7 linked regions of the Homo sapiens genome follow. The protein of the gene in region 5 purifies or fractionates together with the protein of the main gene of each other region. This does not show direct contact. Each region holds a gene or a part of one and is shown on either strand. Other genes may lie near its edges.

The links.
Region 1: the proteins of STK39 (region 5) and ARMC6 purify together in Homo sapiens (co-immunoprecipitation; one large-scale study listed by IntAct). This does not show direct contact.
Region 2: the proteins of STK39 (region 5) and NUBP1 fractionate together in Homo sapiens (co-fractionation; one large-scale study listed by BioGRID). This does not show direct contact.
Region 3: the proteins of STK39 (region 5) and CD46 purify together in Homo sapiens (co-immunoprecipitation; one study listed by IntAct). This does not show direct contact.
Region 4: the proteins of STK39 (region 5) and XPNPEP1 fractionate together in Homo sapiens (co-fractionation; one large-scale study listed by BioGRID). This does not show direct contact.
Region 6: the proteins of STK39 (region 5) and EIF4E purify together in Homo sapiens (co-immunoprecipitation; one large-scale study listed by IntAct). This does not show direct contact.
Region 7: the proteins of STK39 (region 5) and API5 fractionate together in Homo sapiens (co-fractionation; one large-scale study listed by BioGRID). This does not show direct contact.

Annotation. Positions count from the first base shown.
Region 1 is NC_000019.10:19,039,525-19,043,844, reverse strand, and holds part of ARMC6 (armadillo repeat-containing protein 6), read right to left. Parts: intron 1,160-4,320; exon of another isoform or gene 1,135-1,159; coding exon 968-1,134; intron 1-967.
Region 2 is NC_000016.10:10,760,476-10,764,795, reverse strand, and holds part of NUBP1 (cytosolic Fe-S cluster assembly factor NUBP1), read right to left. Parts: intron 3,885-4,320; exon of another isoform or gene 3,433-3,884; coding exon 3,322-3,432; exon of another isoform or gene 3,228-3,321; intron 3,040-3,227; coding exon 2,937-3,039; coding exon of another isoform or gene 2,933-2,936; intron 2,280-2,932; exon of another isoform or gene 1-2,279. UniProt on the Homo sapiens protein: Component of the cytosolic iron-sulfur (Fe/S) protein assembly (CIA) machinery. Required for maturation of extramitochondrial Fe-S proteins.
Region 3 is NC_000001.11:207,785,993-207,790,312, reverse strand, and holds part of CD46 (membrane cofactor protein isoform 3 precursor), read right to left. Parts: intron 61-4,320; coding exon 9-60; 3' UTR 1-8. UniProt on the Homo sapiens protein: Acts as a cofactor for complement factor I, a serine protease which protects autologous cells against complement-mediated injury by cleaving C3b and C4b deposited on host tissue.
Region 4 is NC_000010.11:109,885,507-109,889,826, forward strand, and holds part of XPNPEP1 (xaa-Pro aminopeptidase 1), read right to left. Parts: intron 3,090-4,320; coding exon 2,997-3,089; intron 2,687-2,996; coding exon 2,543-2,686; intron 836-2,542; coding exon 740-835; intron 1-739. UniProt on the Homo sapiens protein: Metalloaminopeptidase that catalyzes the removal of a penultimate prolyl residue from the N-termini of peptides, such as Arg-Pro-Pro. Contributes to the degradation of bradykinin.
Region 5 is NC_000002.12:168,237,203-168,241,522, forward strand, and holds part of STK39 (STE20/SPS1-related proline-alanine-rich protein kinase), read right to left. Parts: intron 1-4,320. UniProt on the Homo sapiens protein: Effector serine/threonine-protein kinase component of the WNK-SPAK/OSR1 kinase cascade, which is involved in various processes, such as ion transport, response to hypertonic stress and blood pressure.
Region 6 is NC_000004.12:98,883,812-98,888,131, forward strand, and holds part of EIF4E (eukaryotic translation initiation factor 4E), read right to left. Parts: intron 4,142-4,320; coding exon 4,078-4,141; intron 3,382-4,077; coding exon 3,268-3,381; intron 2,736-3,267; coding exon of another isoform or gene 2,643-2,735; intron 1,251-2,642; coding exon 1,111-1,250; intron 1-1,110. UniProt on the Homo sapiens protein: Acts in the cytoplasm to initiate and regulate protein synthesis and is required in the nucleus for export of a subset of mRNAs from the nucleus to the cytoplasm which promotes processes such as RNA capping, processing and splicing.
Region 7 is NC_000011.10:43,318,312-43,322,631, forward strand, and holds part of API5 (apoptosis inhibitor 5), read left to right. Parts: intron 1-109; exon of another isoform or gene 110-171; intron 172-328; coding exon 329-490; intron 491-2,509; coding exon 2,510-2,603; intron 2,604-3,099; coding exon 3,100-3,165; intron 3,166-3,673; coding exon 3,674-3,825; intron 3,826-4,320. UniProt on the Homo sapiens protein: Antiapoptotic factor that may have a role in protein assembly. Negatively regulates ACIN1. By binding to ACIN1, it suppresses ACIN1 cleavage from CASP3 and ACIN1-mediated DNA fragmentation. Also known to efficiently suppress E2F1-induced apoptosis.

The sequences.
Region 1 (4,320 bases), on a different chromosome or scaffold from region 5:
GCCACATCATCACGGGGGTGTAGAGGGTATTGGGTGTTTCTGCCACTGGTCCGTGGGCCAAAGGGAGCAGAGTGGTAGTGAGGCCGTTGTCACACAAGGCTGTCATCACAGGCCACGTCTGTGCAGTGAGGTGCCACATGCTGCCTGGTGGGCTTGGTGGGGGAGGGAGGGACCCCACAGCCTTCTCCCTTGGGGCTCCCATCCCTCCTGGCTCTGGCTGCATTCTTGCCCCTGCTGGCACCCCCACAGGGAGCCCCTACAGTGCTGGACGCTTTTGCTTGTCCCACTGGCCCCTGTCTAGTGTTCTATACCCCACTCTGTGCCTAGGAGGCTGACCTCTGACCTCTCAGGCTGTACCCTGGGTTTGTTCAATGGGGAAGTGAACTTGAGATGGGGGCAGGAGGAGGGGAGTGTGGGGTGTTCATTCCCAGCCCCCTGCCTCTGCCCCAGGGCCCAGCACCCATCATGTGGCCCCTGCCCAGGACTCCTGCTCCCTGCAGTCAGGGTCTCTGCCGGAGCTAGTTGTGCTAGGGGTGGTCTCCTAACCCCACCCACACCATTGCAAACAGCCCCTCATAACCACACTCATCTGCACCTGGTCTGAACATGCCACCTGTTTCCACAGGCTGCTTCTGCCTCTGTAAGCTCGAGGTAGGGTAGAGTAGGGCAGGGAGGCAGGGGCCCTGTTTCCCAGGCCAGGGTCAGGGAAAGTCTCTTCAAGGAAGTGATCAAATGAGACTCATGAGAAGGATCCAGCCCACAAATATCTGGGCGAGGTGGAAGCAGGTGAGAGGTGGGAGCAGGATAACCAGCCTGCCTCGGGCAGAAGCTGGAGGGGACAGGGCCCAATGGCACCTGGTTTCTATGCCAGGCATGTGGCACCCCCAGTGGGGCGGGGCAGCAGGGCTCTCCCACTGCTCTTGCATCTAAGAGCCAAGGATGGTAGGTGACAGTCACACCACCCTACCTTGCGATTCAAACTGCTCCACGGCCTCTTTCACTGCCTCCTCTGGCCCCATCGCAAACTCCTCGATGTTCTCGCGCACAGCTGCATCAAAGGTCTCCTGGGCAATGCGCTTGGAGACCATCTTCGCCTGTGTTGATGTTGGCGTGCAGCCGATAGATGCTCCTGAGCTGAGAGGTTAGGGCAAAGAGAGAGCTACCTCAAGGGTGAGCAGGCAATGGCAGGGCCTGGCCACCTTGAAAACGCCACTTAGGAAGCATCTACCAGCGACCAGAGCCCTACAACCACCCTGGAGAAATTCTTCCCACCTGTTATCACAGGAAAGGGTGATATCCCTACTTCCCTAGAACTTCTGCAAATACAGAAGAGGCCGGGTGTGATGGCTTAGCCTGTAATCCCGGCACTCTGAGAGGCCGAGGTGGGAGGATCACTTGAGCCTGGGAGGTCAAGGCTGCAGTGAGCCATGATCACACTACTACACTCCAGCCTGGGCCACAGAGTGAGACCCTGTCTTGGGAAAAAAAAACAAAGTGTAGGAGAGAACACAGAGTTTACTACATTTTATCTAAGAAAGGTGGTTCTTTAATATAATGATACTAGTAATGTTATTCTGAAACTATTACGGATGTAGCAAATAATAATGATTATCTTATTAGGAATCAGAATAAAAGAAAAAAGATTCTGGCTGGGCGCAGTGGGTCAATGCCTATAATCCCAACACTTTGGGAAGCTGAGGCAGGAGGATTGCTTGAGCCCAGGAGTTCAAGACCAGCCTGGACAACATGGCAAAAGTCTGTCTCTACCAAAATAAAAATAAAAATTAGCTGAGTGTGGTGGCACATGCCTGTAGTCCCAACTACTCAGGAGGCTGAGGTAGCAGGATCGCTTGAGCCTGGGAGGCCAAGATTGCGCCACTGCACTCCAACCTGGGCAACAGAGCAAGCCCCTGACTCAAAAAGAAAAAAAAAAGATTCTAACATCGTACTATCAACTAAAAACTCGGAACTCCCTATAATTAACAATATTGTATGGTATACTTGAAATTTGCTAAGAGGGTAGATTCTAAGTGTTCTCACCACAAAAAAGAAAAAGGTAACTGTTGATTGAGGTGAGTATTTCACAATCTGCATGCATATAAAATCGTCAAGTTGTATAATGTAAACATATGCAATATATTTGTATCATTTATGTACCATATATAGTATAAGATATACACTATATTAAATACAATTCGCTGGGTGCAGTGGCGCATGCCTGTAATCCCAACACTTTGGGAGGCCGAGGCAGGTGGATGACCTGAGGTCAGGAGTTTAAGACCAGCCTGGCCAGCATGGTGAAATCCCATCTCTGCTAAAAATACAAAAATTAACCGGGCATGGTGGCGGGCACCTGTGATCCCAGCCACTCGGGAGGCTGAGGCAGGAGAATCATTTGAACCCAGGAGGCAGAGGTTGCAGTGAGCCGAGATTGCACCACTGCACACCAGCCTGGGCAACAGAGCAAGATTCCGTCTCAAAAAAAAGTACATCCTATACCTCGATAAAGTTGAGAAAAAAAATCTCAGAACTCCTATATATGAAATGGGAATATCCATATAAACCCATCATGTGTTTTCTCTTAGGTAAACAAAGATCTAATTTTCTAGTCATAGCAACTAAAAATGCCTAGGAGAAATGACAGCACAGGAGCACTGAATACCTCTAACACCATGTATGGTTTCTACCATTTCCCACGAAAAGGAGCTGGGGCCAGGGCTAGGTGGCTCACTCCTGTAATCCCAGCACTTTGGGAGGCTGAGGCAGGAAGATGGCTTGAGGCCAGGAGTTCAACACTAGCCTGGACAACATGGGGAGGCCCTGTCTCTACATAAAATCTTTAAAAACAAGGAGCCAGGGCTTCTGGAGGAATGGCTGATTCCAAGTCCCAGCAGGTCATGGGGCAGGTAACGCTGGGGTCTTGTGAGACCAGGAAGCAAGGAAGCTTCCAAACCCTAAGGGATGCCTGGTAGCTACAGATGAGACAAGTGAGCATTAAAAAAAAATCCAGTACATATCAAAATCAAAATCTGGGCCAGGTGTGGTGGCTCACGTCTGTAATCCCAGCAATCAGGGAGACCGAGGTAGGAGAACCACTTGAGCACAGAGGCGGAGGTTGCAGTGAGCCGAGATCATGCCATTGCACTCCAGCCTGGCTGACAGTCAGACGATGTTGCAAAAAAAAAAAAAAGTCAAACTCTGTGCTTTCATAATACTAAAACAAATACAGCTCAGGCTTCTGAAAACTGGCCAAGAATCCAGCTCTTGGCAGGGAGTGGTGGCATGCTCTTGTACTCCCAGCTACTACTCAGGAGGCTGAGATGGGAGGATCACTTGAATCCAGGAGTTCAAGACCAGCCTGGCCAACGTAGCGAGACACTGTCTCTACAATAATTAGTAACAATTTTTTTAAAAAAAACCTAGCACTTAACCTGCCTCCCTTGTACAAATGAGTCCCAGGTTATAAAAAGAGGATGAGGAAAAGTTCTGCTTCCGATTCCAGCTGATCAGCTGTGACAGGAGAGAAACAGATAATGATCCCACAGGATCCAAAACCATCAGGTGTAAAACTGATGGGAGCCCAACAAGGGGTAGACAGGAACTCAGTCTACTGCTTGATCTCACATCATCAAGAGAAACCAGCAACACCTACCTCCTGAACAAGAACAAAATGCACCTGTGAAGTCATCGTGCCAAAATCTCAAACCCGAATCTGATCATGCATTCAGGGCACTTCCTGCTATGATGAAACGTTCTCTATCTGCACTGCCTAGTACAGAAGCCATTGGCCTCTGTGGCTATCACACAGCTGAAGTGTGGCAGTGTGGCTGAGGAACTGAGTGTGTAATTTTATTTCATTTTAATTTGTTAATGTAAATAGCCATGTGTGACGAGTGACTATGGTATTGCACAGCACAGCTCTGACACCTTAACCAACACCATGGGGATGTGATCTGCAAAATCCCTACTAGGGAAGAGAATGTCAACTAGAGGACAAACACCCAGAGTTTTCAACAAATAAATCACAAGAACAAAGAAAAGGAGACGGAGTCTACCAACAGATGAATGGATAAAATGGTCTGTGCGCATGGTGGTATATTACTCAGCCAGAGAAAGGAATGAGGTGCTGAAGCATGCTACAATGGAGATAGACCTCAAAAACATGATGTCTCGTCAAAGAAGCCAGACACGAAAAGCCTCATATTGCACGATTCCAATGACATGAAATATCCAGAACAGGCAAATCCACAGACACAAAAAGCAGACTGGGTGTTGCCAGGGACTGGAGGAGAGGGAATGGGGAGTAACTTCTAATGGGTA
Region 2 (4,320 bases), on a different chromosome or scaffold from region 5:
GACATACTCCAGCAGACTGAGATGCTCCAACAGACTGACATACTCCAGCAGACTGAGATGCTCCAACAGACTGACATACTCCAGCAGACTGAGATGCTCCAATAGACCTACTCCAGCAGACTGAGATGCTCCAATAGACTGACATACTCCAGCAGACTGAGATGCTCCAATAGACTGACATACTCCAGCAGACTGAGATGCTCCAATAGACTGACATACTCCAGCAGACTGAGATGCTCCAATAGACAAATACTCCAGCAGAATGAGATGCTCCAATAGACAAATACTCCAGCAGACTGAGATGCTCCAATAGACTGACATACTCCAGCAGACTGAGATGCTCCAACACACTGGCATACTCCAGCAGACTGAGATTCTCCAATAGACAAATACTCCAGCAGACTGAGATGCTCCAACAGACTGGCATACTCCAGCAGACTGAGATGCTCCAATAGACTGCCACACTCCAGCAGACTGAGATGCTCCAATAGACAAATACTCCAGCAGACTGAGATGCCAAAAAGCAAAGTACACTGAGGTGCTCCAGCAGGCTAAGATGCTCCCATGGGCTGAGATGCTCCAGTGGGCTGAGACGCTCCTTCGGGCTGGGATGCTCCCGTGGGCTGAGATACTCCTGTGGGCTGAGATGCTCCTTTGAGTTGGGATGCTCCCGTGGGCTGAGATACTCCTGTGGGCTGAGATACTCCCTTGGGCTGGGATGCTCCAGTGGGCTGAGATGCTCCTTTGGGCTGGGATGCTCCCATGGGCTGAGGTACTCCTGTGGGCTGAGATGCTCCTTTGAGTTGGGATGCTCCCGTGGCCTGAGATACTCCTGTGGGCTGAGATACTCCCTTGGGCTGGGATGCTCCCATGGGCTGAGATGCTCTTGAGGGCTGGGATGCTCCCTTGGGCTGAGATGCTTCCAGGGGCTGAGATACTCCTATGGGCCGTGATGCTCTTTCGGGCTGATATGTTCCTTCCCCCACTCCTTCATCGTGGGCTAACGCTCTCCCTTGTCATTTTCTCCCACAGATGTTTCCCCTGACAAACGTCCTGCCCACCAATCCCATCTCGGCAGAGCTGAACTGTGGCAGAGGTGCAGGCTGGCAGGAATGGATGTGCCCTGGGCTGCTGCAAGCTCCTGTCCCCAATCACATCCATTCATGCAGCCCAACTGCCTCCAGGGGCCTCAGAGGGCAGCTCTCATCACCACTTCCGGCCACTGCAAAAGCTGCCTGGTGAGTGTTTTATGATGCTGGGGAAGGTTGAGAAAGCAGCTGTACTTTTCTGCATGTTGTTGGGGAAATCACATGCCAGAGAAGTATTGTGGGATGTGGGAATAAGGGAAAAAGGATTTGGGGACACAGCCTCCTGGGCACATGGGGTCTCTGGCGTTCTCCCGGGCTGTTCCCATCTTCAGAGTGGCCCTCGCACCCTACCCCCCTACCACTTCCTCGAGGCAGCCATCCCCCAACACTGTCCTCCTGGCTCCCGCTTTCTGCACGGCCCCTTGGCAATCCTGTCCATGTCCTGTGGCTTCAAAACTCAACTGCACGGACATGAACCACCTTCTCCTGACGGACCCCAGAACCTGCTGACAACCTGAGCCCCCGAGCCCCTTAGCCGCAGCACCCCAGAGGGCCCGGCCTCCCTCTACCACCCCTGCTTCACTGTCTCTGAGGGACGGACCCTCCTCCAGGTGACTTGTACTGGCAGCAGGGACAACCTTGACCCTCAGATGCCGTCACTTTCTCTCTTGTGTGTGTCCCTTCCTTTCTACACCAACGCCAGAACCCAGGGCCTCATCCTGAACCCCTATCCCAGGGCAGCCACTCCTGAGCCTCCTGTTCCCAGGCACATGACACTGACAGTCGTTTCCCACAGGCTCCCATTCTCCCCATGCAGCCCTTCCCCAAGGCTCCCCACGTGGCCTCCGCCCTCCCCGCCTCCAGGCTCTCCACGGGCCCCGCCCTCTCCCCAAGCACGCGGCCCCCACCCTCTCCTGGCCAGGCCATACTTCACCCGCCCGGCCCCTCTCTCCTGTCCCGGCACAGACACCTCACACTGGCCTTGGTTCCCTGACAAATGGAGTGGAAGTTCCGAGGCATGGGTGCAGCCGGCACTCCTGGATCCCGGCCTCCCCTCCAGCCTTCTCTCTCTGTTCTCCCCTCAGACCTAAAGGCGAGTGCTGGACGCCCCGCAGGAGCCCCACTAAAGGGCCCCAGTAACGGAGGCCCGCCCGGCTCCGCGGTCCTGGGGGACAGCAGCCTCCTGGGGGAGCAGCTTCGAGTGTAGGCCCTGCCCAGCGCCCCGCGGCGAGTGGGCGCCCGGCGGGCGTGTGGGTGGAGACGTGAAACCCCGTCCCTCCTTCAGCCTCAGGGCCACTCAGGGAGTGGGCATCTCTTGGGATCCTGGGAGACCCACGTACTTAAGAAGAGCATTTTTTGGGAACTTGGCCCCTGCTCGCAGGCCAGTGATCCGCGTTCCGGTCTGTCCCGGTGCTGGAGACAAAGGGGCCTCATCTGTGCCGTGCTGGCTTCTCCGGGCACAGGAGGCCCGGCCCCTTCCTAAGGGATTTTCACCTCAGGCCGCCTTCCTCTGTAACCTGGACGCCATGTGCATCCCCTGGAGCCGCCCCTCTATCGGGTGCCCTCCTCAGTCCCCTGCCACCACCACCCTCACCAACCTCTACCCCATTCTTCCAGGCCTCACCCCTCTGCCTGAGGCCTGCTTGCTCCCGCTACCTGCCCGCAGGGGTCTCGGCCTCTCTCCCGGTGGCCTCTTGGGGTGCCAGCTGGAGGGTGGGTCTGGCTCCAGCGCCCCATTGACCCTCCTCCTTCCATTGCCCCTCTCTGTAGCCGCCCCCTGTTGTGCCCGACCCGTGCCTGTGGGGCTGACCGAGGAGTGAGGTGCCGCCCCACACTGGGGTCACCCACCTATGAGCGGATCCAGGGGCACTCTGCCGAGGAGAGGGACCTCCAAGTCCTGGCACATGAGCTCCGCGCCCCCGGTTGTGGGAGGGAATATCTGAGATTCTTTCTGCAAGGCAAATTCAAAGGGGAGGAAACATAATTTTTTTGCAGAATCACAAGGATGGACCACATTTTAAAGAAACTTAAAAAAAAAAAAAAGGCTTAGTTTGAATGTGGAACCCTTAACACCTAAAGAACTTTCCTTTAGTCAGCAGAAAGGGATTTTAATTGTGATTCCACTTCCCAAAATGACAGGGAAAGCAGAAATAGTTTGCAGAGCAGCCTTCCGATCGTTTCCTCATCCATGAGAGCAAGATCTTGCTCGCCTGGCAGCCCCACGCGCCCTCACCTTGCACTTAGGACAGATGAAGCCACTCATGTTCTCCACCACCCCGATGATGGGCAGCTTCACCTTGCGGCAGAAGTTGATTTCTTTCCGGACATCCTGGAGTGACACCTCCTACGAAGGTGAAAAGACCAGTGATTCCAGCATCAAAGTGCGAGAAAGGGAATGTCTGTGCAACCGAGGGGATGGCTGCAATGCAGTGGATCTGCGATCATAAAGCCTTAGAGGTTTCTGCCCTGATAGGGTTTGGCTCTGTGTCCCCATCCAAATCTCAGCTCGAACTGTAATCCCCATCATCCCTACATCCCTACAGGAACAGGCAGTTCCTGGTGGGAGGTGATTGGATCATGGGGGCAGTTTCCCCCATGCTGGTCTCGATAGTGAGTTTTCACGAGATCTGATGGTTTTGTAAGTGTTTGACAGTTCCTCCTACACACTCTCTCTCTCACTGCTGCCACTGTGTAACATGTGCCTGCTTTGCCTTCCACCATGATTGTTAAGTTTCCTGGGGCCTTCCCAGCCATGCAGAACTGTGAATCAATGAAACCTCTTTCCCTTATAGGTTACCCAGTCTCAGGCAGTTCTTTACAGCAGTGTGAAAATGAACTAATGTATGCCCTCTGCCAAATCCATATTTATTTAGTACCTACTAGTGCTAAGCCCTGTTTGTTCGAGGTGCTATTTACTTCCCACACAGCCAAATAGCAAGAAATCAACCTAAAAGAAAATGACTTTTTTTTTTAGAGACAGGATCTCACTGCTGCCCAGTCTGGAGTGCAGTGGCATAATCATTGCTCACTGCAGCCTTGACCTCCTGGGCTCAGGCAATCCTCCTGCCTCAGCCTCCAGAGTAGCTGGGACTACAGGCATGTGCTACTCTGCCTGGCTAACTTTTTAATTTTTTATAGAGATGGTTGTTGCCCAGACTGGTCTTAAGCTTCTGGTGTGAAGTGATCCTCCTGCCTCGGCCTCCCAGAGTGTTAGGGTTAGAGGCGTGAGCCA
Region 3 (4,320 bases), on a different chromosome or scaffold from region 5:
TCTCCTTCTCAGAGAGAAGTAAATTTTACTTCTCTGTGGGTCTCATCAGTTAGGTATGTGCTGAACAGAGGAAGAGAAAACGGCTGAATAAAATAGTGACTTCAAACCAAAAAGAAACGAGTAGCATAACAAGTGGGATAAAATCCAGTGTAAGAGAGTAGCAGGAAAGCTGAGAATTAGGTTCATAACTTAAGACTTTCTCATTCTCACTGAAGGACTGGAAACATGAATTTTGTGCTAGAAGCTACTTGAACTTTGAAGTCATATAGATCATCCAGCAGATAAACAGACTGGAAATTCCTGTTTAATATGTTTATCTTTGAAGCCATTTTGCATGAAGTGATTCATGTCAAAATGTTTTCAAGGAATAACAGATTGTTGGGGAGAAATGGTACCGGTCTCTAGCACTCTTGATTTTTTTTTTTTTTTTTTTTTTTTTTTTCAAGACACAGCATCTCACTATGTTGCCCAGGCTGATCTCAAACTCCTGAGCTCAAGCCATCGGCCTGCCTCGGCCTCACAAAGTTGCTGGGATTACAGGCGTGAGCCACCAAACCCGGCCTAACACCCTCAATTTTGAGGGAATACATTGAGTATGTATCAAATCCATGTAATATTATCTAGAAATCAACTTTATGACATCATGTATTTTCAGATGTCTCTGGACTTTTACATTAAGAAGTGTCTTCCTGTGGCACATCTGTTTTCAACCTGAGGAGACATCGTTGCAAAACTTTGTATTACATGGCGTCTCATATTTCTGAGATGGATCTAATTTTGTAAGGATGCTTTCTAAACTAATTACAAAACATTTTTGTAGTTGCTCAAAAATTTTTGAAGGGTTAAATGCTCAAGAATTTAAGGGCCAACTAGAAAAACATTTAAGTTAATTTGATCCTTTTTTTGCCCCATGTCACTATATGCCCCAATTACCTGAACTGACCACTATTTTTAATAAAGTAATTGGGTCAGTCAATATTAATGTAACATTAAAAGTCAGTTTAGGTTATACAAAATAATAAATACCATTAATGGAAAAAAGGAAAAACTATTTGTCACAGGTAATAAATATATAAATTATGTAAATAACTTTCACTAACTTAGCCAAACTGTCACTTATCCAGGGATGCTTAACTAGAGTTAAAAAATAATCATGCATTTAAAAAAAACCATTACTTAAATATTTATGTAAACAAAAGGCATCTGTTGTTCAGAAGCACAGTCATGCCATGCAATACAGGACTGAAGCAGTAGCAAAGACAGGGCTGTGGCTTCCAAGACTAAAAAGTATGGTAGAAGAATTAGTAAAGAAAGGAAATGGGAAGGGAAAAGGAGGGAGCATGTGGATGGGACCTGTTTCGGACCCACTGGTATCCTATACTGTTCTCAGCTGAGAGCTATGAAACAGAAAAGTGGCAGAATACTTTAACCTTTTGCCCACTTTTTATCAAGTAATGTAAATGATGTTGGATGATCTTAAAATGACTCCTTACACTATTTTTGTATTTTGAGATGAAGGCTGCAGAAGAGTAATTACGTTCCCAAATCACCATAAATACCAGTTTACAAGAAATACATTTTGTGCCAGGCTTTAACAACAATTTGAGATTATTTGTGCCTGCTAGCCTGCTTCCAGTTACCCCCGGAAGTGGAGAAGTGCCTCCAGACATTTTATAGTCTTTATAAGAAGTTTCTAAGGCCACAACAGCCAATCTGGGGGGACAAGATTATGGACATTAAACAGTGCAAAGAAAATAATGGAAATCTTTGGGGTTTTTTTGTGTTTTTTGTTTTTGAGATGGAGTCTCACTCCGTCACCCAGGCTGGAGTGCAGTGGCGCAATCTCGCTCACTGCAAGCTCCGCCTCCGGGGTTCACGCCATTCTCCTGCCTCAGCCTCCCAGAGTAGCTGGGACTACAGGCGCCCGCCACTATTTTTTTTTTTTTTTTTTTGTATTTTTAGTAGAGACGGGGTTTCACCGTGTTAGCCAGGATGGTCTTGATCTCCTGACCTCGTGATCTGCCCGCCTCGGCCTCCCAAAGTGCTGGGATTACAGGCGTGAGCCACCAGGCCCGGCTGGAAATCTTTGTTTTTTAAGAGTTAAAGAAGGTAAGAAAAGCCAAGTACTATTTATTACCCCATAGCCTTTTTTTAAGGATACACATGGATGAGGAATCTTAAAAACTTCAATTATCTTAAATATTAGAAAAATTTGCCAATAAGCTTCATAGTGTTTCTTCAGACTTCAACAATATAGGCACATCAGTAGTGGGCAACACCCTGGTCAGTGTAGCCCAGGCACAGCAGCAGCATCAGCACTGGGAGCTCACTAGACAGGCAGGGTCTCAGGCTCCACCCCAAACCCAATGAATCAGAATCTGTACTTTAACAGATTTCCAGGTGACTAATGTGCACATTAAAGTCAGAGAAACATTCCTCTAGACTCTGAAGAAGAAAGATAAACCACCCTCACATTCAGTTCAGCTATCAAAATAACATGGAACTACAAAATAATAGATCCATAAAGAGAGCCTAGCTTTGGATTCAGCCATTACATATGCTGAATTTCCAATCGAGTATGTTCCTGTCATAAAAAGGGTAACATCTATTCTAAAAGATTCCCACGCAGTTTATATTTTAAAGTTCAAAGGCAATTAGGAGTTTCGTCTCTCACACCATTTTCTGGACTATTTTTCCTCAAGTTGTGCTACTATTTGCAGGATTAATTATGTTGCATTGGCTAAAGATATCATACCTTCCCAAAATATTTTAAAATTTTAATAATGGCAACTGTCAGTTGGACCCTATGCTGTAAAATATGGGCTTTAAAAAAAAATCACTGGACAAATTAATTTTGGAATCTCAGTTCACTACTGCTATTGAACCTTTCATTTGGGAGTGTAACAGTCAGATAACTGTTGAGCTTTAAAAGACCCATTAAGGCCGGGCGCGGTGGCTCATGCCTGTAATCCTAGCACCTTGGGAGGCCGAGGTGGGCGGATTACCTGAGGTCAGGAGTTCAAGACCAGCCTGACCAACATGGTGAAACCCCATCTCTAGTACAGGTACAACAAATTAGCCGGTGGTGGTGGTGCACGACTGTAATCCCAGCTACTCGTGAGGCTGAGGCAGAGAATCCCTTGAACCCAGGAGGCCAAGGTTGCAGCGAGCCAAGATTGCGCCATTGCACTCCAGCCTGGGTGACAGAGCAAGACTCCATCACAAAAAAGCAAAAAACAACAACAGAAAAACCATTAACTGCTAGCTAGAGAGAGTTTGATTAATACTTGTTAATGAACCTTTAAAAATTCTGATGCAGTGATATTTTAAACAAAGAAGGAAAATAAGCAGAATGCGACTTTGTTTTGTTTTCTTTAGAACTTGTTTCTACGCAAACCTTATGGATTTGTAAAAATATTCCATTGATAATATTTTGTACTCACGTTGTAGATATGTAACTTTTAGAATATACAACTGATAGATAAATCAAATATGCATATCGTGTTCCATTAATACAAGATTTAAGATTCAAGTGAAGGGATTATGGGTATTTCAAAAGATAACCAAGTAATATGAAAAAAGTTTGAGTTCCTTATGAGTAAAGCTTGTACTTTTATGACTTAGCCCAAACCTGATGATCAGTATAAAAGGAATATATATCATAAAACCATGAGTACCAAAAGTCTTAAAATTATTAGGTTTGATTTCAAAGCTATTTCTAAAACTATAGGGGAAAACAGTTTTTAAAAATCAGTAAAAATGAATGTATATTATCTTTCAGAAATTTCAAAGCACCTAATCTTAGTCTGTGTTCCAGGATTCATTCTAAGTCTTTTGTTAAACTGTAAGCTCTTTAACTAAAATTTGAGTTTGATGTTTTAAAACCCTATTTTCTTTAGAAGATATGTACTTGTACATTTTTCTTCTATTCTAAACCCACTCACTTTTTACATTTTTATATATTAAAAGACACAGTTAATTGAGGTACCTTATAGATCTAACCCCTCTCAGCAATTTTAACTTTAACCCTATCAGTTTTACTGCAATCTGGTAAATTCAGAGAACATAAGAGGGAAATCGGATAGTGTTGTTTTGAATCCCCCAGTTTAACATGTATAAATAACAACTTTAAATGAAAAGACACCAAATTGGGTATTTAAATGATATGCCTACATAGCTTCTTGCAACTAGCTAAGCTATATAGACAAGTGGAAACTTTCATTATAAAAATTCCAGTGAATACAACTGTCAAAGTCTCCACAGTGAAATACTTTAAATTTAATTTTGGCCATTAGTGCAATTTTGGAAATAGGGAATAGG
Region 4 (4,320 bases), on a different chromosome or scaffold from region 5:
AAGTTAATTAGGGATGTAAGTCACTGACACACTTGACAATGTTTTGTGGATGGAAGATGCAGGGACTGAAGAGAGAGGACACTGCAGTAGGGTCTCATTCTCTAGTGAGAAGGCAAAAAGATAAAGCAGTGCCTCTTCTCAGTTGCCCTGGGTCAAATCCACTCAGAAACCAGAAGACAGGACAGGAAGGTTCAACCAGATTCCGTCAGGTTTTAGATGAAAGAAGGTGCTGAACAACTGCATGAAGGTGGGTTAAGGTCCAAAGACTGAGAAACTACTATTACATCAAAGGGCTTGGGGAGGAACTTTTAGTTCCTAGTTTTCTGAGGTAGAAATGCTCCCAGAACATTCTCACTATAAAGACCTTAGGAAACCACAGGACAAGTGTAAAGAAAGAAGGCCTCTCCTATGAGCCCACTTCTACACCTACAGAGGCTGACAGACATAAAATATTTGTAGGAAATGCCCTTCCTCAGAGGTGCCATGGTCCTGAGGGACTGGCCAGAGGTGGGCATCACCCAGCTGTAATACTGCTCTGGACAAGCCTCACTCCCCTCCCCAGCTCCCTGTAATTCTTTCTCCTTCATCCTAGTTGGCATCTCCTATACCCATTTGGTGACGTAGTCTTCTTCTTATTCCCTGGCCACTCAGAAAGTTGAATGGCATGAACACACAGATACCCAGAGACCCAAAGGAGAGATCGGGTAACATGCCCAAACAGCGAAACCAGAGCACTCACACGCAATCTCATCCAAGGCAGTGACCACAAACCACATGACGTTCCTCTCAGCCATTTTCAACCGAAGGTCTGCAACCTTGTCCTTCCAGGAGATGCCTGCAAGAAACAAATGTGCTTTAACTCCAGCCCTGGTCCCAGAAAGCAGTAGGAACCCAGTGAAAGAACCTACCCTAAACATCTTTAATCAGCACCATTTCTTACAGGAGCACGCTACTTAAACAGGCAGGAGGCCTGGATTCAAGCCCTATACAAGAAGTGTCCAAGCCACTTGACTGTCGTGAGCCTTGATTGCCTCACCAGTAAAATTCATTCATTTACGCATCCCACAAATGCCTGTGTAACATCTAGATCTGCCAGGCATAGATACGTGCCAGGCACTCTGCTGGTCACTGTGGTTACAGATCTGAGCCAGACCCAGTCCCTGTCTTCATGGGGCTTACAATATAGAAGGGAAGACAGATAATTAAACCAGCAATTAACACACTACTGTAAATACTGATGCAACAGGGGACACACAGGGACCTATATCAACACACTACCCAGCAAAGGGAACTCACCCAGTCTCAGGGGTCAGGGGAACAGCACCCACCACTTGATGTTCCTGGGGGCTGCAAGACTTGCCTTTCAGTGCTAAGACCTAGGAATTCCCTGTAGTCTGACTCACTGTGATTACCACTTCCAAATCACACTTGCCCTTTCAGACACTGCCAAGGCCTCTCTGTTGCTCTGCAAGATGAAATCGTGGTGCTAGAGGAGCTCACCCCATTGCCACCACAACCACCCTACCAGGGCAGCATTCATAACTCAGGGAACAGCCACCTGTGAGCAGGGTGGGCATCTGTCTTATTCACTCAGCACCTCGCACAGCATCCTGCAGATAGTAGGCACCCAAATGTGTACTGAACAGCAACATTTGCTCTCCCCTCTCCTATAAGCAACAAGTCAGAGCTTCTGCTCTAGTGAAAAAAACTTCAAACCACGCTGATGGAAAATATTTAGCTGACCCTGGGCCACTCACTGGACCCATCCTCCCCATTCCGCAATACCCCTCTGGTGAGGATGTCACACAAGAAAGCAGGCTGGGGCTGCCCCCACACCCAGGGCTGCACTGAAGATCAGTTCGGGAATGCTGTTTAAAACTTGGCCCAGAATCTAGGCTGTCACGCTTTCTTCCCAGGACCCCTCTGGGCAATCTGCCTACATTCCACAGCCATCCCCCATCTACCTCTGTTTCTACAGCAAGACGCCCTCCCCTGCAGCCCCACCTCCAGGCCTCTCTCTCTGCCCCCTCACTGCTTCATAAATCCACACAATGGTTCAGAGAACATGCTGCTTACCCATCACTATCGCACAGGCCAAGGAAACACACCCACACCCCAAAGCCTCTAAAGCAGAAGGTACAAGATGGAGGACAAAGGCCTAGGAAGGTAAATCTACAAATGCTGACATAAGAAGGGAAATGGAACCTAGAAACCTCTATGCTCTATTTCCAATATCAAATACGTTCGAGTGGCAGTTAGCAGCTGAGTGGATAAAAAAAACTCAGTCTTTTCAGCAGCACCCAAAAAGCCACCCAAACGAGCTTTGCGAAAATAACCAAAGCCAAACTAAGTGGCAAGTAGGTGGCAACAGTGGAAACAAACAAAGCTCCTGCTTCTTCAAATATCCCACTGGGGCAGAGTAGGGCAAAATCCTCCTGTCAGCTCCAACTCGACTTGGATTCGGAGGACGAGGCTGGAGACAATAGCAAGAGGTGGGGGGACAATGGCAGGGGCCCTGCTGGGCAGAACCATTGATTCTGACCTGTGTAATCCAGGCCCAGTGTGAGGAGAGGCTTGCAAGGGCGCTCAGGACGGTCTGTCCAGATTTTGTCAACGAGGTTCTCCTTGACAGGAATGAGGTGATGGCCGGCACTTCTCAGAACTTTGGCCATTTTCTTCCAATAATCTGAGGAGACACATTGTGGCCCAGCCATGAGCCGAACGCCCATTGCAGCAGGGCAGGGAGCAGGGCCTTGAAAGTCCAGAACCTTCAGAAAGGTGGTCCTGCCATGGCCCAGAGCTGGGTGTGCAGGATGAGGAACTGTAAAAGCACATCTTCACCACCAGTGGAACTCTTCTCTTCACCCTGACCTCTACTATAAAATCAGTCATGCTGAGCCCCCCAGTGCTCCACACCCCACAAGCAAATGAGGAGAATGGAGGGGAATCTAGAAGCCACTTCCTTACCCAAGCAGAAAGGGACCAAGCTCACTTACCTGTAGGAATGATCAAGGGGTCCACACCAACCCTGGATCCTTCAGGAAGCACACTCACCAGCCAGTCTTCCTGAGTTGGTGTGTCCTTCAGACCTACAGGGGGAAGAAATGATAAGAAACAATTCCCAGTGGGCCCACGCTCATTATCCCACCAGAAAGATACAATTCTCTAACATCATGATAGCAGGGTCTTTATTAAGCAGCTTCTTTAAAGTGGATTGACAGGACTTAGAAAATCTGAACCTCCCTTAATCCTGGAAGGCTACAGAGAGGGAGAAGTGTAAGTTTTTGTGTATGAAAAACATAAGACAAGGGTGAGACAGAAGGGAAAAAAGTATGATTTTTCACTTGACCCCTTGTAAAAATATCTTGGGGATCACTGCCACGTACACACATGGCGTCACCACAAAGATTGTCTCCTCAGCGTTCAGTCACTTCCCCACTACTGGTCACTTGATGAGAATTTGGGCAGTGATTTGGTGAAGTCTGGGAACTGGGAGACTCCCACATATCACATACCAGGTAAGGTGATAACATGCTCCCAGTGCCCGCCCCTCATCTGCAAGGGCAGGGTGGCCAAGAGAAGGCCGCTGCCCCATAACCAGCCTCTGAATAGAGGGCTAAGCACAAGTCTTGGCAGCAAAGAGATCTTTCCGAAGATTTTAAGAGAGGCACACAGGCACCTGTCCGGTTGTCTTTATTTATTTATTTACTTCTGAAGACAGAGTCTCACTCTGTTATGCAGGCTAGAGTGCGGTGGCACCATCTCAGCTCACTGCAACCTCCACCACCTGGATTCAAGCAATTCTCCTGCCTCAGCCTCCCAAGTAGCTGGGATTACAGGCTCAAAATTACCATGCCCAGTTAATTCTGTATTTTTAGTAAAGACGGGGTTTCACCATGTTAGCCAGGTTGGTCTTGAACTCCTGGCCTCAAGTGATCCTCCCACCTCAGCCTCCCAAAGTGCTGGCCATCCTGTTGCCTTTAACATGAGCCTCTGGGTTCCCCAACTCCCAGGATGAGACAGCCCTTTCTGTTTCTAAGACGCTAGTCATAGGACACTATATCAGCCTCCAGAATAGAACTAAAATTACTTCTATAGTCCAGTTTTCCTTTAATCTAAGCCAACACCTTCCATATCTAGCCAGTTATCTTTGAAATGTATACTTTTTTTAACCAATGAGGTTTTGGCCAAACAATTAACATCTTGATAAAATATACATATATTTAGAGTAAAAGTTCACATATTCTAAAACAGTAGAAACTTATCTTTACTATTTTCTCTACTGACTACTGATACAACCACATAACCATAGAAGGGAAG
Region 5 (4,320 bases):
AGCAATTGTGGATGGAGTTCACTCATGATTTGGCTCTCTGTTTGTCTGTTATTGGTGTATAAGAATGCTTGTGATTTTTGCACATTGATTTTGTATCCTGAGACTTTGCTGAAGTTGCCTATCAGCTTAAGGAGATTTTGGGCTGAGACAATGGGGTTTTCTAGATACACAGTCATGTCATCTGCAAACAGGGACAATTTGACTTCCTCTTTTCCTAACTGAATACCCTTTATTTCCTTCTCCTGCCTGATTGCCCTGGCCAGAACTTCCAACACTATGTTGAATAGGAGTGGTGAGAGAGTGCATCCCTGTCTTGTGCCAGTTTTCAAAGGGAATGCTTCCAGTTTTTGCCCATTCAGTATGATATTGGCTGTGGGTCTGTCATAGATAGCTCTTATTATTTTGAGATACGTCCCATCAATACCTAATTTATTGAGAGTTTTTAGCATGAAGGGTTGGAGCCTGGGATTCTAAGGACTTTGGGACCATAGGCAAGTTTCTTCAACTTTGGCCATTAGAGAGTTTTCAGTTACAAGACAAAGCAGCTGGGATGGATTTTTTTTCCTTTGGTCTCTTCTAAAATTAAATTTCCTAATTCTCTCTATATTCTTGTACCACTTCTCACTTAGGAACTCACTTATAAAAACCAGCCATGACCTGCCATTCCTTCCCCAGGAAACCCCGTCTGCTGCTCCTCTTCCTTTGCTTTCTTGAGTCACCCCATAATTAAACAAACAGAGATAGTGACATTGCCTGAGAGAAAGAAAGAGAACCAGATGATTCAAATTAAAATCTAAGCTACACAGGATAGGTCAATAGGCACCAACCTACCCAAAATGTAATCCTTTTTCAATCCCCAGACTAAACAGAGTAGGAAATAAAGCAGTTGGAATACCCTTAGTACAAACTCTGGTTCAAACTGATGCAACCAGTTCAAAACAAAATCATTACTTCTTCTAAGACCCCAACCATCCACAGAATGATTATGAGAAGTCTCACAACTGTCACAGGTCACTGGCTCCAAAATACTCCCTGAATGAAGATCTATCATTCACAGGGCAGAAAGTCATCCACCTCTACTTTCCATCTAGTTTTTTCTGACAAATAGCTCCAGTGGTAACTAAAAGTTAGAAACCTAAACCCATAAATGTCAATAAAATGTATATTTTTTACCTAAGGGAAGAATCACATGAGCACCCCCAATACTAGGCTTCTGAGAGTTATACTAAATGCCACTTACCTGGAAGAAGTTTGAAAATAAAGTCAGGGATAATATGAATGTAGAGGTCTCTACCATTTCTATCTTAAAATGTTTTCCCATATATCAAAATACACAATCAGTTTAAAAGGTCAATTAATCTCAATCCTCAATGTCCAAGAAGTTTCTTAAAGCTAAGCCAGAGTTTATTCTCAAATAACTGTTTGGCAAGTGAGAAGAAATGTGAAACATATCATTTACTCACATCGGATTCCAAAGTATTTATCTAAATCGACTCTAGAAATAAAGTATGCCAATCCATTCTCTAAAGGATTTTTCTCTTCTGCTTTTCAGTTAAGCCAAGTCTGAAATGACTTTTTAATTAATATATTGAATTCTTGTCTAGTATCAAAAACTTGGCCAATTGATGGCAGATAGGGAAAAAAGAAACACTTGAATCACTTCAACTAAGAGCTGTTTTGGTATAATCTAAACACAACTATCCTAGAGGAAAACGTATGACTTCACATGATTACATGGAGAATTTTATTTAAATAGGAAAAAAAAACTTTCCCAAAAAGTACACTGTAAAGGAATTATAACATCTATTAGAATGACCCGGTTCTATGGTCTTAGCAGGTACCACAGCCATCCTATCATGTCAGTCCCTTATAAGTTATAAAAATAGAACTCCTGCCATCCTAACAACCTTTGAAAGCCACTTGTTCTGCAATTCTGCTCCTGTGTTTCACCTGCATCCCTGATCGTCTCCAGCAGCCCTGATTCCTACACAGGAAGAGGCTCCACAGAACTTCAAGGTGAGTGTTATATATAAATACATGAACAGCAAGAGAGAGAGATCACTGATATACAAAAGAAAAGAAAGCTCTAGAGCTTTTGAAGGGCAGTGTGGGACTTCCCCACTCCACCCTACAATGTCTACGGATGCCAGAACTGTGGCAGGGAGCTCTGGGTCCTTTAATCCAGCCAGAAAGGCCACCTCTCAGTCCTAAGACCTCAGGAGAGCCAGGCCTCTGCCTGCCTACCTCCACAACACAGGCAGGTGGACGCACTCAAAGTGCTTACTCTTGATCTGTGAGGATTAATGAGCTAATTTCTACAGAGCCCTTTAAGCTGATTGGCCCAAACGCAACTAAATAAACCCCATCATTAACCACGGGCAAGATCAAATCCTCAGGATCCAGTGAGGCAAATTTTTAGACGTCAGGCAATGTTCCTCCTCCACAAGGTGAGGAAGGAGTATTTATCCCCAAAACTCAGAACTTCATCCAGAAAACATTTATTAAATATCTATTATGACATGCAGGGTAGGGAGATGAGAGACCCTGTCCTCAAGGAAGACTTAACAGTCTAGAGCCAGGCTGGCAAGGAAAATACAATTTGCAGATAGTGTGACAACTGCCAGGGAGCGAAAGACCCAACAGAGCCTGAAGGGCAAGGGGGGAGGGGGGCTCTAGAGGCAGAGATTGTTTGTGTGACAAGAAATCACTTGTTCAGGGTATGAGAAGAGAGGCCCAGTCAGGGTGCTGGTTACATGGTGTGTTCAATTCATGAACATGCACCAAGATATACATTTTTTATATGTACACTTTTCCACATGCATATTATACTTCAATAAGGGCAATATTTAAAAGAAAAGACAGAGCTCTTTGCTACATAGATGAAAAATGGAAGGGAAGGGTCTTGGAATGGTGTTCCAAGCAGAGGGAAATCTTGCCTAGAAGAGGCATTTCAGCAACTGCAAAAGGTTCCCACTGGCTGGAGAGTCTGTCCTGAGACTGGAAATTACAAGATGTGGCTGAAAAGGGAGGCAAGAGACAATTCCCAAAAGACCTTAAACACTGTGCTTCAAATTAAGTCTTGAGGGTGACGGGAGAGCTACTAAAGGCATTTCAGCCTGGGAGCAACGTGATCAAGAATTTTGGTATAGCAGTATCTTTCTGGTAGCAATGCACACTACAGCCAGAAACAAGAATGGAAAAAAGGAACCTGGTTAGGAAATTATTACAATAATCCAAATAAGAATCGATAAGGGCCTGAACTAAACCAGTGGTGGCTGACATGAAGAGTCAGAGTCAAATCAAAGAAGATCTCAAGGAGGTGGAGTATTTAGGACTTGGTGACCAAACAGATGTGAGAGATGGACAAAGACAGGAAAGTATAGGATGGCCAGCAGGTTTTGCCCTTGAGGGCTCTAAAGATGATGAATATAGAAGAAACAAGATTAGGACTGAGGCCAGGGTGGAGAGACAATGAGTTTAACTGTATGAAGTTCCTGTGAAACATTCAAACGAAGACATTAAAAAGGTAGTCCAAACACTGGTATACAGTCAGGAAGACCCTCAGCATTTGATGTGGTAATTGAAGCTTCAGACAGACAGAGATGTGGATCTGGGGCAGGCAAGGGAGTACAGGAAGTCCAGAAGGAAGGCATGGCATGGAAGCTCAAGCAAATGCCTTTCCAAAAGGAGAATGAAAGATGGCACCTAACCCTGCAGAGAGCAGAGAAAAGGACTGCAGTGTCCACTGGCTCTGGCCACAGAAGAGTCACAGTGATTTCAGAGAGTAACTTGGGTTTCTTAGGGAAAGGGCAGAAGCCAGACTGCAGTGGGCTGAGAGGGAATGGGAGGTTCCTTCCAACAATTTAGCAGTGAAAGGAAGAAACGAGATAACCGAGTAGCCAGAGGAGAAAGAAGTAGGGAGAGTGTTTTGTTTTGTTCTCTTTTGTCATTTAAACATAAGAGACAGGCTTGAGAATATTTATAAACTGAGGGAAAAGCAAAGAGGGAAAGAAGGAGACAGGGAAGCAATGGTGATGACTTTATCTGAAAATGAAGGCCTCTGTCCTCGCACTGGCTGGGACACACAGGGAGCGTTTCTTTTAGTCAGCAGCATTTCCTGCCAGCATGGCAGCCTCCGGGCAAACTCAGAGGTGGAGGAAAAGTGCAGTCCTAGCAGGTTGTTCTCGGAGCCCTCTCATAATGGGCTGCTCCTCTTCAGCAACCTTCCCGCAGGATGCTCTCATCACTTGTCAGAGGGCCATTTGGCACCTAAACCCCTGAGCTGTCCAAATTGCCAGGAGCTCCACAGGTCTCTTCAGT
Region 6 (4,320 bases), on a different chromosome or scaffold from region 5:
TGGCTTGATCAAGTCCAGGAGTTCATGACCAGTCTGGGCAACATGGCAAAACCTCTTCTCTACAAAAAATACAAGAAAATAGCCAGGTGTGGTCATACACACCTGTAGTTGCAGCTAATTGGGTGGCTGAGGTAGGAGTATCACCTGAGCCCAGGAGGTTGAGGCTGAAGTGAGCCATGACTGCACCACTGCACTCTTGCCTGAATAACACAGTGAGACCCTGTCTCAAAAAAAAAAAAAAAGCCACTTTTGCAAAGAATAAAATTTACAAAAAAAGGTTTAATAAAACCCTACATATGTGGGTTTTAAACATGGAACAAAAACCAAGATATGTTATATAAATTTTAATGAAAATTATACGTAGTAAACACACATGCTTTAAATGCACATATACTATTTGCCAATAATCACTGAATTATTATTATGAGCATACATTAGCTCTTTTCAAAGTAGTACTTTTTTCCAAACAGCACTTTCAAAGTAGGAAATAATACATTCTCATTTGTGAATGAATAAAAAATGCTACATGCCAAAGGAGAGTGCTCTAGTGGTTATATACTTCACTGCTAAGAAAAAGCAATTTTACAGAAATAAAAAACATATGAAAAAGGCCAGGCGCAGTGGCTCATGCCTGTAATGATAGCACTTTGGGAGGCTGAGGTGGACGGATCACTTGAGACCAAAAGTTAAAAGACCAGCCTGGCCAACGTGGCAAAACCTGGTCTCTACTAAAAATATAAAAATTACCCAAGCATGGTGGCATGCGCCTGTATTCCCAGCTACTCGGGAGGCTGAGACATAACAATCTCCTGAACCCGGGAGGCGGAGGTTGCAGTGAGCCTAGATCATGCCACTGTACTATATATAGCCTGGACAACAGAGTGAGACTCTATCTCTAAATAAATAAATAAATAAATAGCTGTGAAAAAACCCAAAAAAACAAGACGTTGCGCACCAATTGAGCCGTTCAAAATTATAAAAGTGTTCACGAAAACAATACAAGGAAAACAGGATCTACAAACTGAAGTATTTCTAAAGCTACAAATAAAATAACTTCTGGTTTTACTCATCTTAATACTGTAAAATAAGTAGGCAAAGAGCAAAACTTACCCTATATGTGTAACAGCTTCTCTGTTTTCACATTCAGTAGTCCATATTGCTATCTTATCACCTTTAGCTCTAACATTAACAACAGCGCCACATACATCATCACTGTAGTCATCAAAAGATTCTCCAATAAGGCACAGAAGCTTAAAAAAAAATCCCAAATTACATTTAATAGATTATAAACAAGCTCATTACACTGCAAATGTCTCTTCTGTATTTGCATAGAAACTAAAGGCAGTTTTTAAATCAAGAGTTAATTTTTTAAATGTGTAAATTTTATTTGCATATATTGATCTGTCCTGACTTTTAAATACTCATTCATTTATTTACTATCAAATCAGCCTTTTTCAGCAAATTTGGCAGTTAATGTCATGGCAGACATAAAAGCTGATTTTATTAATATTCATTTGCTCTGCTGCTGCTTATATTTATGAGCAAACAAATATTAATAGAATAATAAAAATAGCTATTCATGGTTAATCTCCTCTTGTTCTTATTTTTTATGAATATTTGTTAATGGTCTGGTTTTTTGTTGTTGTTGTTGTTTGAGACAGGGTCTTGCTCTGTCACCCTGGCTGGAGTGCAGTGGGATCATCACAGCTCACTGCAGCCTCAACCTCCTGGGCTCAAATGATCCTTCCACCTCAGCCTCCTGAGTAGGTGGGCATACATACAGGGACATGTCACCATACCCAGTTAATTTTTGTATTTTTTGTAGAGACAGGGTTTTGCCATGTTGCCCAAACTGGTCTTGAACTCCTGAGTTTAAGTGAAATGCCTGCCTCAGCCTCCTGAAGTGTTGAGATCACAGGTGTGAGCCCAGCCCTAACAGATTTCTTAATTGTGGTAAAATACAAATAACATAAAATTTACCATTTTAACCACCTTTAAGTGTACAGTTCAGTGGTGTTAAGTACATTCAACATTGTTGTACAACCATCCCTACTACCATCCATCTCCAGAAGATTTTTTTTAACTGCAAAATGGAAATGTCCTGACTTTTTAATGTGGAATTCAAAAATGGTATTTGCTCATGATCTTCCCCCTCAAAAACAGAATTTTCTTCTTAAAAAGTCATTCATTCATTAGCTGGCTGTGCTGGCATGCACCTGTAGTCCCAGCTACTTGAGAGGCTAAGGCAGGATGATTGCTTGAACCCAGGAGGCTACAGTGAGCTATGATGGCCCCACTGCACTCTAGCCTGGGCGACAGAACAAGACCCTGTCTCTAAAAAAAAGCAAAATAGTCACTTATTCAAACATTTAAAGTGATTAACTTAACAAGTGCTAACTATAAACCAGGCACGGTTTCAAGTGCTAGGGATACAAAAGAGACTACAAACCCCGCTCCTATAAGCTTGGGGTTTGGAACCTCTGTCTACAGAAAATGCTTATTATCTCATATTTAATTTGTCTTGTAAAGCCAGAAGTTCCAGTTAATATCACAACATGTAGGTCAAATGGTAGTACACAACAATTTTATTATTTGCTTCACTAATCTAAAAAGTTTAGTGGGACAGGCACAGTGACTCACACCTGTAATTCCAGCACTTTGGGAGGCTGAAGTGGGAGGATCACTTGAGGCCAGAAGTTTGAGACCAACCTGGGCAACATAGCAAGATCCCATCTCTGGAAAAAAATTAGAAAATTAGCTGGGCATGGTGGCATGCACCTGTAGTCCCAGCTACTTAAGAGGCTGAAGTGGGAGGATCACTTGAACCCAGAGGGTGAGGCTGAAATGAGCCATATAAATAAATATCCGCACTCCAGCCTGGGCAACAGAGCAAGACCCTCGCTCTAAAAATATAAGTATTTAAAAGTTTAGTATACATATAGCAATGCTGTAAGAGGGTTGCAAAAACTTCAATCATACAAAATGTAAGGTTCTATAATTTTGAGGTTAATGAAATGACCACAGTGAGCTTACTGTGGTGAGAGTCAACTGCCAATCACTTAAAATATCTGACTTATAATGTGGTAGGATGTTTCACTGTACTATAAACAGGAGTCATATGACAGAACAAAAATAATTACTGACCCTGATTTTCTAGTGTTGGGCATCCTTCTCTTAAATTAAGTAACAAATGTAAAACATAACATATCTTAAGTATCAGTATTCCAAAACTACCTCTAAAACTGCTTTATACTTTTAAAACCTTACTGTCTCTAGCCAAAAGCGATCGAGGTCACTTCGTCTCTGCTGTTTGTTCAATGTAATTAGCCATCGTCCTCCCCGTTTGTTTTTCTCATCTTCCCACATAGGCTCAATACCATCCTACAGGGTTAGAAGACAACAGTATTACACAACATTGTTACCTTGACTTTGAGAGATAATCATTAGAAACAGTTAAGCAACAACACTGTCAACTTCTTACTTTATTGCCCATAAAACTGCCATTGATGTAGTTTTTAAACAGCACATAAGACTTAAAGCCAGAGGCATGACATTGCAGAATTAGAGTCCTGGCTTTGTCACTTATTAGCTATCAAATCTTGGGTTTCACTTAATTTGAAGGTTCTTAAACTTTCTGAGAAGCAAACATATTTTAGAAGCTCTGTACATTTCTACAGCTAGAAAATACATGCAAAAACTATGCAATTTCAGTTAATGAATGTCCCGTCCCTCTACCAACTGACAAAGCCCAATAATAAGTATTCCAAGGACCCATGCTCCTAAGGTTAAGAATGCTTGATAAACTCAGTCTGCTCAAATATATAAAGGAAGGAGTAGACTGGATAATCAAAGCTCTCATCAAAATCAATCTCAGTATGTGCCCACAGAGTAACTCTCTCTCAATTTTTATAAACAAATAGAATAAGATATATTGATACTAAAGCATACTACAGCCAATTAAATTATCAGCCTATTCATCACACTATCAAATATTCCTAAGTTTATGGTAAGATTTCTTAATGAATACCAAATGGCCCAGTCCTATAATAAATATATAAAATCACCAATTAAGCATACCTTAAAAAGTGAGTAGTCACAGCCAGGCATTAAATTACTAGACAACTGGATATGGTTGTACAGACTAGGTAAAAGAAAATAACAATTAAAAACACAGAATATGTAATATAGAGTTTAGGTGCTTACATATATATACATTTAGAACATATGATGAAAATAAACAGATAAAAGTTCATGTTTACTTGTTTCTAAGGAGTCAATTTCTAAAATGGACAAAACAGATCTTAAAAGCAGTTAAATAAT
Region 7 (4,320 bases), on a different chromosome or scaffold from region 5:
TACAAATTTTTTAAGCATGATACAGTCACATGGCCAGAGTTAATAATCACTAGAATGAAGAAGTATTGGCATATTAACAAACACATTTGCTTTTTCCACTTAAAATTAGACTCATCCATCTCCCCCAACTCAAAAATGAAACAAAGATGGAGGGAGAACGGAATTGGGAAGGTAAGTGTCAGTTTGAGCAGTAAACCTCCCAAAATCAGCTTTATTTCTTAGCCTGTGTAAAAATTTAAAGCACACTCTAACATGTTTGTTATGGTCTTTTACTTTGCTTCCCATCCTTCAAAATCATGTGTCTTTCCTGCTTTATTTTTTATTTCAGCATAAAGATGCCTATCAAGTGATATTGGATGGTGTGAAAGGTGGTACTAAGGAAAAGCGATTAGCAGCTCAATTTATTCCGAAATTCTTTAAGCATTTTCCAGAATTGGCTGATTCTGCTATCAATGCACAGTTAGACCTCTGTGAGGATGAAGATGTATCTGTAAGTTTATGAATGACACTTCATAGCAATCTTTCAGATGTTTCTGTATGTGGCTGATACAATTGGAGTAGCAATCTGATATATCAGAGTACACAATAAAATACTATGGTATGGTCTGGCATGGCATCACACCCAGGCTTAAATTTACATATGATAAAGTGTATTAGCCTTTTTCAACACCTTTAAATTATGAAAAATGCATAGAATCTCAAAATACTTAGTTTCGCTTATCATTTATCCACTGTTAAAAATGGGTTGTGGCTCACATCTTGTTTCATAGATTGTTATTCATTGTGCATATGAAATTAGACTGTTTTTAATCAATTTGTGCTTACTTGGATATTTAAATTATTAAGTGTTATATCATAAAATGTAGTTTCACTACCCTTATATATTTTGCATGGCAGAAAAATGGTATGTGTAATAAGTGAATAGGATTACTAGATTAAAAAGAAATAGTTTTTGTTTTTTGGTTTTTGGGGGGTTTTTTGGAACAGAATTAACCAGTAATATTTCTGGCTGCTGACACAGGTTCCTAAGAATATTCAGCCGTTAGCTCTTGTCTTTTCAGATGAAACAGCGAATTGCCAACATTTCATGCAGAATTTGCTGGATATAAACCCTATACTTTTTTTGCTTTTTTAATAGAAACAGGGTTTCACTCTGTTGCCTAGACCAGAGTGCAGTTGCACATCCATAGCTCACTGCAGCCTTGAACTCCTGGGTTCATGCATTTTTTTCCACTTTAGCCTCCCAAGCAGCACAGACCACCGTTCCCAGCTGATTTTTAATTTTTTTGTAGGGTCTTGCCATGTTGTCCAGGCTGGTCTCAAACTCCTGGCCTCAAGCTATCCTCCCACCTTGGCCTTCTGAAGCATTGGGATTACAGGCGTGAGCCACCTCATCTGGCCCGCTGTACATATTTTATGTAAAAATCGAATAAGCCAAGATCAGTATTTGGAATTAAACATGCAGAATATAGCCACAAATGTTGTATTTAGTAGTCAATACTGAAAATTCTAAAGTAAACAGTTACTAGGTATAACATTGCCACAGTAGCCATTTTTTAGGAATACTATATTATAAGCCCATAGGTAGTAAAAACCTAACAGTTGCATATAATTAGCATGTAAATAGTTGTTTATAATCTCAAATCTGTCTCCTTCAGCGAGACATTGTTAACATCCCTTTTTATATTTTATTCTGTGTAACTTGAAGATTAAATTGGAGCAAATTCTCTCTTTTTTTTTTTTTTTTTTTTTGAGAAGGAGCCTTACTCTATTGGCCAGGCTGGAGTGCGGTGGTGCAATCTTGGCTCACTGCAACCTCCGCCTCCCTGGTTCAAGCGATTCTTCTGTCTTAGCCTCCCAAGTAGCTGGGACTATAGGCGTGTGCCACCACGCCTGGCTAATTTTTGTATTTTTAGTACGGACAGGGTTTCACCATATTGGCAAGGCTGGTCTCAAACTCCTGACCTCGTGATCCACCTGCTTCAGCCTCCCAAAGTGCTGGGATTACAGGTGTGAGCCACCACGCCCGGCCAATTGGAGCAAATTCTTTTTAAAACTGCTAGAAATCTGCTGTTTCATATTTTTGTGACTCGTATGCCCCTAATGATGGCTTCTCTGTGGTTTTAGTTTTCTTAAAAAGTTGAGTTTGCAGCTGGGCATGGTGACTCATGCCTGTAATCCCAACACTTTGGGAGGCTGAGGTGGGAAGATCACTTGAGCCCAGTAGTTCGAGAACAGCCTGGGCAACATAGGGAAATCCGCCTTTAAAATTAGCCAGGCGTGGAGGCTTGCGTCTATAGTCCTAGCTACTAGGGAGGCTAAGGCAAGAGGCTCTCTTGAGCCTAGAAGGTCAAGGCTACATTGAGCCATGGTTGCACCACTGCACTCCAACCTGGGCAACAGAGCAATACCTTGTCTTTAAAAAAAAAAAAAAGAAAGAAAAGAAAAAGCTGTTTGTTATTTTAAAGGTGATAGTATTTGGTTAATTTTTGTTTGAAATCATGCCCAGATTCGACGTCAAGCAATTAAAGAACTGCCTCAATTTGCCACTGGAGAAAATCTTCCTCGAGTGGCAGATATACTAACGCAACTTTTGCAGACAGGTAAGGGATTTTATTATTACCTTTTTCTCTAAATATATATCTTCTTTCTGAAATGTTGACTCTGTTTTTAGGTTTTAAATGGGGTGCAGGAGAGCTGGAGGTCCTACCTCTGATAGAGATTAAATTTCCTACTTTCATTCAGTAGTTAAAGTGTAATGATTTCTGGTTATCTAATTCCTGGTGTTGTTTTGTTTTTAATTCCGTTATGAAGGTGTAATGACTAGATTCTTTTGGGCATTTTGATATATCATAATTTTTCCCCCAATTTCCTGTAGTTTCATAATTGTAGCATCTTAATAAAAGTTTTTCAGGCATGCCAGATCGGGTTCTCAACTTACAAGGAACACGTATCTTTTTGGTACTTGAGGGAATGGCTTAAGTTATAAGTTTCCTGTCAATGTAACCTTGAGAAACTAAGTTGAATCAAGTTTGAAACTGAAGCAGATGATATTTTAAATTTGTTTTATATTCATTATGCCACTTTTTCTTTATCCAGATGACTCTGCAGAATTTAACCTAGTGAACAATGCCCTATTAAGTATATTTAAAATGGATGCAAAAGGTAAGGCCAGTTCTTATTCTGAATTGTGTTTGATGTCTTACAGAATCACAAAGTTAGGTGTTACTCATTAAGAATAAACTCTAGGGTTTACCCAGAGTTCTATTTCATAAAAATTCTAAGTATTGTGAAAAAAGTCTCCTTAGGTCAAGATGTTTATGACTAGAAAAACGAGCAGAAATAACTGCAAAAACAGATCACGTTTTTCCATTAGAAATCTGTTGGAAGAACTCCTTTTGACACTTTCAAGAAATTCTTCCAAAATACCTGGGTTTTATTATTAGTAATGATAAAAAAGGAAAGTCATGCTTAAGCTGACTATGTCTTCATGAAGAAAGCACTCTTATGGTTCAGGCTGTAGAAATTTCAGACTACTTTTAACTAGTAATGAGGATGATATTTGGGAAGTTCATTAACTTATTTGAGAAGAAATACTATAAATTGAGTTAAATGGGAAAACACCATTACACTATAGAATTGACTTGCTACAGGCAACTATTTTGTTTTGCAGGGACTTTAGGTGGGTTGTTCAGCCAAATACTTCAAGGAGAGGACATTGTTAGAGAACGAGCAATTAAATTCCTTTCTACAAAACTTAAGACTTTACCAGATGAAGTCTTAACAAAGGAAGTGGAAGAGCTTATACTAACTGAATCCAAAAAGGTGAGCTTTGGTCTTCATTTGGTGGAAATTCTCTAAAGCAAAAGAGCATACTTGACATTGGCAGTATTCGTCAATGTTATGTGTGGCTTGTGTATAAAATGATATATCATATATCCCATTGGAACCACCATAGAACTTCTAAGTTTTTCTTAGATTGAATTTAGCACTTTTGTCGGTGGTAATGATGAATCAATTTGGTAATTTAAAGGAATCTGATTACATTTAAACTTTTCGTGGTAGTGTCCTTAAAATTTGTGCAACCTCTGCAAATCACCTCCTTCAGGAAACTTTCCCTAAGTCCTACCCCTCCCTTCCATTTTAGGATACTCTCTCATAGTATTCTAAATTATTTCAAAATGAAACATCACATCAAAATGACCTGTTGTCACCTTAGCCCTTGACACTATCTGCTCTTCAAGGGTGAGACCATGCTTGTCTTTGCTCCCAGCATCTAGCATAGTTGTAGACGCTAAGATTGGCAAGGTGCGTCACAAT